Homo sapiens: one gene and its partner. The protein of the gene in region 1 interacts with the protein of each later gene in a pairwise test. Each region holds a gene or a part of one and is shown on either strand. Other genes may lie near its edges.

Region 1 (4,382 bases):
TCCTGTTGGTAAGGAGTTTCATAAAAAGGAAAAGAAAACGCATCAAGAAGCTGACGTAGGTAGCAAAGAGACAGGAAAAGAGAAGAGCTTTAAGGCCAGTGTTTGGAGATCAGACATTTCCCCTCAAAGGAGGACAGGCCTGGCTCAGGTCTTCAGAGGCATCAGGAATAGACCCTGGCCTCAGCTGATTCAGAGATGGTCAGAGCAAAGGACACCCCACAGGGCCTTCTCAGGGCTATGTTTGGAAGCAGCTCTTGTTACCCCAAGCCTGCCTAGCATCAAACACCCTTCCCTTTTATCCTCAACGTTTGTGGTCAAGTATTTGTCACTGCCCCGAGGATATTTAGGGCTGTACAGAGCAACATGTCCTTGTCATCAGGAGCAAGGACACACATGGAGCGGAATCTGACTGATGGGTACACATTGTGCTTTCTGCCCGCTTCTGCAACGGAAGATGCTGGAAATGTTCTGCTAGATCTCAACAGTGTGGGTGGCTGAAAGCAAACTCTGTCCACCACACAGACATAGTCTGAGAGCCCCCTAAGTGTGACTGCCCTGGGCCACCTGGATCCCCCTGCTGGGCTCTGAGCAGGGACATGACTGGTCTCTGTGCAGGCCGCAGGGCAGCTTAGTCCCTGTCACAGCCCCAGAATGATCGCCCCCACCAGGCCCAGGTCGGTCCTCCTGTAAGTCTCCTGGCAATACTGCTCTAAAATCCCACTTCCAGCCCAGTGCAGGGACTCACGCCTGTAATCTCAACACTCTGGGAGGCCGAGGTGGGAGGATCACTTGAGCCCGGGAGTTCGAGATCAGCTTGGGCAACATAGTGAGACACCCGTCTCTACAAAAAAAAAAAAAAAAAAAAAAAAATTAGGCGGGTGTGGTGGCATGCACCTGTGGTCCCAGCTACTTGGGAGGCTGAGGCAGGAGGCATTGCTTGAGCCCAGGAGTTGGAGGTTGTAGTGTGCTAGGATAGCGCCATTGCACTCCGGCTTGGGCGACAGAGCGAGGCTGTTTCTGAATGAATGAACGAATACATAAGTAAATAAGAAAATAGGTAATACATAAAATAAAATAAATAAAATAAAATAAAATAAAATAAAATAAAATAAAATAAAATAAATAAAATAAAATAAATAAAATAAAATAAATAAAATAAAATAAATAAAATAAAATAAATAAAATAAAATAAAATAAAATAAAATAAAATAAAATAAAATAAAATAAAATAAAATAAAATCGCACTTCCCAGCGGTTACACCCGGCCACGGAGGTCCCCAGGCTGGCTGCGAGGGCGCCGGGGAGGTCACTGTTACTCCAGCCCCGCAACCCGCGGCGGCCCTCGCACACTTCCGCCGGAAGTCAGCCCCTCAGGGGCGCCGTGCTGATGTCACGAGCCCGCAGGAAGTCTCGTATCGCGCCCGGGAGGCGCCGGAGCCCAGCGGCTGGCGGTAAGGCCGCCTCCGCGGGGCTGTGGGAAGCTTGGGCTGTCCCAGGACCGTCAGTCTCCTCCTCTGACCCTCCCTTTCCCCTTGTGTGTAGGGCCGCCGTCCCACCCCCACCTCGCCCGAGTCCGGGGCGGCCCCGGTGTCCCCTCCGAGCCTGCTGCACTCCACGTCCCCCTACCAGGGCTCCAGCCCCCAGGGAAATCTCCGACCAGGCCCGCCCAGGAGGTGCCTTGGATGGGGGTGGCTTCGGGAGGCCCTAATGGGGAGTGGCGGGGAGAGACCCAAGGCTACCGACTTGGCTTATTTCTTCCCAACTAGCTGTTTCTCACAAAGTCTTTATTATTATTGTATTTTGAGACGGGGTTTCGCTCTTGTTTCCCAGGCTGTAGTGCAGTGGCGCGATCTCGGCTTACTGCACCCTCCGCCTCCCGGATTCAAGCAATTCTGCCTCAGCCTCCCCAGTAGCTTGGATTACAGGCATGCGCCATCACGCCCAGCTAATTTTTTTTGTATTTAGTAGAGACGGATTTCACCATGTTGGTCAGGCTGGTCTCGAACTCCTGACCTCAGGTGTTCTACCCGCCTCGGCCTCCCAAAGTGCTGGGATTATAGGCGTGAGCCACCGCGCCCGGCCTCTTTTATTGTTTTTAGAGATGGGGTCCAGCTCTATGGCCCAGGCTGGAAGGCAGTGGCACGATCACAGCTCACTGCAGCCTCGACCTCCTGGGCTCAAGCCATCCTTCCACCTCAGCCTCCCAAGTAGCTGGGACCACAGGCGCGGGCCACCACGCCCCACTGATTTTTAAATTTTTATGTAGGGACAGTGATCTCACTGTGTTGCCCAGGCTGGTCTCGAACTCTTAACCTCAAGCTATCCTCCTGCCTGGGCCTCCCAAAGATTTGGGAGCAGGCCTAAGCAACTTAGTCTGGGCCATTTCTCCCAAAGTCTTACCCATTCATGCTGGGGGTGCTGAAAATCCCCTACTTCCAAATCCTTTTCCACAGGTATTCTGCCTTTGACTGCAACTCTTGTCGTCTTATGTGGGTGTTGAATTGATCTGTCTCTGCAGCCAGATCCAGGCTCCTGGAAGAACCATGTCCGGCAGCTACTGGTCATGCCAGGCACACACTGCTGCCCAAGAGGAGCTGCTGTTTGAATTATCTGTGAATGTTGGGAAGAGGAATGCCAGAGCTGCCGGCTGAAAATTACCCAACCAAGAGAAATGTAGGCTGGGTACCCTGAATCACCCCGTGAGAATTGCTGCTGTTTGTTTACTCTCACCTATCATGTCATGAATAGCTTCTTGTTTGGTTATCTCACTTGGCATTACAGCCCAGAATCTTATCTGCTAAGGTCAAAAGTGACCAGTTCCGGTATCTTTTTTGGTTTGTTTTTGAGACAGGGTCTCATGCTGTCGCCCAGGCTTGAACTCCTGTGCTCAAGCAATCCTCCCGCCTCAGCCTCCACAGGCATGCGCAACCACACTTGGCTAATTTTTGTATTTTTTGTAGAGATGGGGGTCTCGCTTTGTTGCCCAGGCTGGTCTTGAACTCCTGGGTTCAAGTGATCCTCCCACCTCAGCCTTCCAAAGTGCTGGGAGTACAGGCACGAGCCACTACGGCCGGCCAATTCCAGTACCTTTTTTTTCTTCTTTTTTTTTCTTAAACCGCTACACTATGGAAAAGAGTTCCAGTATCCAGTGTCTTTTCTTTTTTTTTTTTTGAAACGGAGTCTCGCTCTGTTGCCCAGGCTGGAGTGCAGTGGCGCGATCTCGGCTCACTGCAACCTCCGCTTCCTGGGTTCAAGAGATTCTCCTGCCTCCACCCCCTGAGTCGCTGGGATTACAGGCATGTGCCACCACGCCCGGTTAATTTTTGTGTTTTTAGTATAGATGGGGATTACACCATGTTGGCCAGACTGGTCTCGAACTCCTGACCTCGTGATCCGCCTGCCTCGACATGCCAAAGTGTTGGGATTACAGGCATGAGCCACCACGCTCGGCCTCAGTATCCAGTATTTTAACGCAGGCCTGTGTGTTGACTCTGGTTCCAGAGGGTAATTCCTGATGGTTGTGGCCAGTGTCCTGGAGGGATGCTTCTTAGGACAGGATGCCTGATTCTGGGTGCAGGGCTCCTGACTGCCTCTAGGAGATGCTTGTTCTCAAGGCATTGTCAGCAGATTCTTTGGGGACACATCTTGTATCTTTGTGAATATTTAAGGAAGTAAAAGAATGATTCATGCCTGGGGGCAAGGAAGGAGGATGCATGTTCTTTCTTGGTTTATTTTGGATTTGCAAGTTGGAGATGCTTCAAAGGCAGGCCACAGTCTTAGGGTGTTAGATTCAAAGTTTTTATCTTGGGCAGGTGCAGTGGCTCACGCCTGTACTCCCAGCACTTTGGGAGGCCGAGGCAGGTGGATCACCTGAGTTCAAGAGTTCGAGACCAGCCTGGCCAACATGGTGAAACCTCATCTCTACTAAAAATACAAAAATTAGCCAGGCATGGGGTGCGTGCCTATAATCCCAGCTACTCAGGAGGCTGAGGCAGGAGAATTGCTTGAACCTGGGAGGCGGAGGTTGCAGTGAGCCAAGATCACGCCACCGCACTGCAACCTGGGTAACAAGAGTGAAACTCTGTCTCAAAAAAAAAAAGTTTATCTTTCTTTTTTTATTTTTTATTTTATTAAATTGAGACAGGGCCTCACTATGTTGCCCAGGCTGGTCTCGAACTCCTGAGCTCAAGCGATCCACCCACCTCTGCTTCCCAGAGTGCTGGGATTACAGGCATGAGCCACTGCACCTGGCCCAGAATTTTTATCTTGATTGAGGGAGCTCAGGACCATTTTGGAGGCCCCACTGAGAGGCAGCAGGCCTCTGTTATGTGTGCCTAAGAATTGGTGAATTCTGTTCTGTTTGTCTTTCTGCTTTTTGCTTT
Region 2 (3,812 bases), on another chromosome or scaffold:
CCGAGGGTTGTTTTGAGGATAAATGAGACAGTATATCCAAAAAACTTAGCAAACTATCAAACCCTTTACAAGTATATGATGCTATCATCAGCAGCAGGGAGTGGGGGGAGAAGAAGAGAGCGATGGTCAGGATGGGGGCAGTAAGTGTGCCTCACACGCCTCAGGCCCCTGACACTGCTTTGCACAGTGCTTTATGCCCAGCAGGTTCAATAAATGCCGATTGAGTAAATGAATGTCAGAAGCAGCCCCAGGCACCTGATCAATACATACATGCAGGCCTCCCGCTGTGGGCTCCAAATGGGAAGAGGGCTCAGTTGGTTTTGCAGAATACAGCATCAATATGACATATGCTTCATTACCTTAGAACAGGAAGATTTGCTGCGTGGTGGCATTCCATGTCACCCCACATGGAATTAGGCACTTTGCTTTTCCCCGAGGCTCCAGAGTGATGGTGGTTGGTAGGACATGATCCATATTCTTCTACTAAAGCTGGAAGAGTGGGTGTGTCAGACAGGGATGAGAGTGTGGAGATTGGGCAGACCCTCTTCCACCATCCTCTCTGACCCATTGCTGGAGGTGTGCCCTGTTCATTGATTGGACATGGCACCACATTCATCCCAAATGGCATCAATTGGTGGTTTTCAATTTGCAGTAGCAAAGTACCTGGAAGTCATGTGCTTTGTATGAAACACCTTGGAATGCTGATAAGTTTAATTCTATTCTGTAAAAGAGGAAGACTTTTGTTAGCTGAAAAGCCAACTATATTATCCATGCATTATGCTTCAGTCACAACCAAAACTCCGGCTGTCAAGTTCATCAACTCCTGATGCCTCCCAAGTCTGCTCCTGAGCCCCTCTGGTCCCTTTTCTCTGTGAATATGCGACACCAGCCTCCCAGAGCCCCACGCAGAAATCCTAGCATTACCCTCAACTCCTTATCTCCCTGCTTGTCCCATACCCACTTTTGCCCCACACCTATCCAAGGACCAAGGACCATGAAATTGACTTGCAGTTTAGCTCCTAATTCTGAACAGGTCTCTCCATCCTCGTTTCCACTATCTTCGTTCAGATGACCACAATTTCTAACCTAAATTACAGCCAAAACATCACTCTCCTCTGAGCTCTCTTCTACACCATACACTTTCTAGAACACCAGTCCAATAGGGTCATGTCTCTGGGCCCAACCTCTCAGGGACTCTCCAGCTGACAAGACACAATCTGGCCTGTAAATGTCCCTGCAGTTTAATTATCCTCAACGTTACTGCCATACCCTACATTTTTGGCCAAACAGAATTGTTTGCTGTTTGATGATTTGATACCATGTCATATTGTCTGTCTGGAACATCCCCCCACCCCTCTCATTTAGCAGGCTAAGTCCTCCTTCTACTTCATCCCAGATGATACCCACTTCAGGAAGTCTTTCCCTTCTGTGGGATGAGATGCCCATTCTGCAGGGCTTTCACTCCCTGCATCCTGCCAAACCTCATCATCTCTTACCTGGATTCCTGCTACAGCCTCCCAGTTGGTGTCCCGCTTCCACTCTGGGCCCCTCCTCTCCGTTCTCCACAGTGCTGTCAGAATCACCTATTCGAAAGGCGAATCTGATCATGTGGTTCCTGCTGCCCTTAGGATCATGTATAAACTCCTAGCATGACTTTTAAGGCCCTCTATGATCTTGCCTATTGCAACCTCCCCAGACTCAACCCTTGCCAGGTCCCTCTGCATCAGCTATCCAGAATCTCTTTGAGGCCCTCCACCTGCTGTCTACCTCTCTACCTCTGTGCTTTGCATATACTGCTTCCAATGTCTAGACCTTCTGCTGACTCCTAGTTCTTTACCTGGCTAATTCCTACACATCCTTCAGTTGTTTGTCTGTTGAACATCACTTCCTCTAGAAAGCCTTCCCTGAATACCTGAACTAGGTTATGTATCTCTCTCCCTGTTCCATTTCCTACTCCCTATCACCCTTAGATGTAATTGCTTGATTAATTGGCTGTTGTTTCTCCTAGAATGTGAGCTACAGAACCATGTATATTTTGTTCCTGCCTATATTTCTAGAACTATATAGAACAATGCTTAATAAATATTTATAGAATCAAGAATGAATGAATACCCATTTCTGTTTCGATGACTAGAAGGTAGCAAGCCTGGTTAACTGAAGTGTGTGGTGCATGGGTCGTGCTTAAGAAGTGTTTGTTGAATGAATAAATAAATGATGGATCAGCTCTGTTCAAGCTCATCTTATTATGCATTTTTAAAAAATTGTGTTTGCTCATTTGTCCTACCAGCTGTAAAAACTTGCTAGCAAAAGAGTGGCAGAAGGCCCAACATTTTTAGAAAATTCTTAGCCGTAAACCTTAAAATCCCGAGTTGGAAAATTCTCATTATTAAATGCCAGGAGTTGGTCTTCTTCCTGGAGACCTCTGCAAGAGGCCCTCTCACTGACACCTTGTGTCCATTTTTCCTGGCCAGAGCCTGGCCACCCAGTGGCTCCACCGCCCTGATGGATCCACTGAATCTGTCCTGGTATGATGATGATCTGGAGAGGCAGAACTGGAGCCGGCCCTTCAACGGGTCAGACGGGAAGGCGGACAGACCCCACTACAACTACTATGCCACACTGCTCACCCTGCTCATCGCTGTCATCGTCTTCGGCAACGTGCTGGTGTGCATGGCTGTGTCCCGCGAGAAGGCGCTGCAGACCACCACCAACTACCTGATCGTCAGCCTCGCAGTGGCCGACCTCCTCGTCGCCACACTGGTCATGCCCTGGGTTGTCTACCTGGAGGTAGGTGGGCCCCCTGCTTGCTCCAGCACTTTCTCCAGCAGGGCCCTGCACTGGACACTGGGGACTCTAGCTCCCCACTGGCTTTTACCAATGAGTTTCCTGGTGCTTCCCCAGGTGGTTTTTCCTTCACTCTGGGCTTACTTTTTCTCCTTACGAAATGGGTAGATTGTTTCCTTAATAATCCCAACTACCATTTGTAAAGTGCTTACTAAGTGCTGGGCCTCACGTAGGGACTTTAAATATAGCATTTTCCTATATAACCCTCACAGCAGCTTAGAGGCTGGCATTATTGCCACCATTTTGCAGTTGATAAACCAGGTGGTCAGAGATGTTAAGTAACTGCTGCAGCATCACACGGCTGGCAAGTCCAAGCTGGAATTCTGGCCTCAGAGTTAGTTCCTTAGGTCATATTGGAAATAGGAGTAACCGGCAAGGATCCCCAAGGAGGGGCATGTTTATGCTCCCAGGCCCCTGAAACCTTCACTCCCATCTCCCCACTTCAGAAATGGGTCTGCTGCTTTATGCTCCCCATATCCCCTCTCCTTCCCACAGCTTATCCTGGGGCCCTGTCCAGGACCTGCAGGTAGAGGCTGCCATGGACTGTGCTGTAGCCCTTTTGTTAGGAAGAATTGTGTAGTCACTCATTTCTTGGCCCAGCTCTGCACCTCAAAATGGGGAGTAGGCAGCACAGTCTAGACACTGTGCCTGGTGCATTGCTGACACAGACCCAGTGAATACTCTTGGTAACCCTGGGAGTCCATGCTACTCTTCTCACTTTACAAAATAGGAAACAGGCCGAGCACGGTGGCTCACGCCTGTAATCCTAGCACTTTGGGAGGCCGAGGCAGGCAGATCACGAGGCCAGGAGTTCAAGACCAGCCTGGCCAACATGGTGAAACCCCATCTCTACTAAAAATGCAACAATTAGCCAGGTGTGGTGGCATATGCCTGTAATCCCAGATACTTGGGAGGCTGAGGCAGGAGAATTGCTTGAATCTGGGAGGCAGAGGTTGCAGTGAGCTGAG

Evidence for each region.
Region 2: the proteins of ZDHHC4 (region 1) and DRD2 interact in a two-hybrid assay, tested with the Homo sapiens proteins (one large-scale study listed by BioGRID and IntAct).

What each region holds. Positions count from the first base shown.
Region 1 is NC_000007.14:6,576,048-6,580,429, forward strand, and holds the start of ZDHHC4 (palmitoyltransferase ZDHHC4), read left to right. Parts: upstream 1-1,406; 5' UTR 1,407-1,451; exon of another isoform or gene 1,452-1,673; intron 1,674-1,830; exon of another isoform or gene 1,831-1,925; intron 1,926-2,453; exon of another isoform or gene 2,454-2,518; 5' UTR 2,519-2,616; coding exon of another isoform or gene 2,617-2,673; exon of another isoform or gene 2,674-2,699; intron 2,700-4,382. UniProt on the Homo sapiens protein: Palmitoyltransferase that catalyzes the addition of palmitate onto protein substrates including the D(2) dopamine receptor DRD2, GSK3B or MAVS.
Region 2 is NC_000011.10:113,423,342-113,427,153, reverse strand, and holds part of DRD2 (D(2) dopamine receptor), read left to right. Parts: intron 1-2,471; 5' UTR 2,472-2,502; coding exon 2,503-2,787; coding exon of another isoform or gene 2,788-2,791; intron 2,792-3,812. UniProt on the Homo sapiens protein: Dopamine receptor whose activity is mediated by G proteins which inhibit adenylyl cyclase. Positively regulates postnatal regression of retinal hyaloid vessels via suppression of VEGFR2/KDR activity, downstream of OPN5.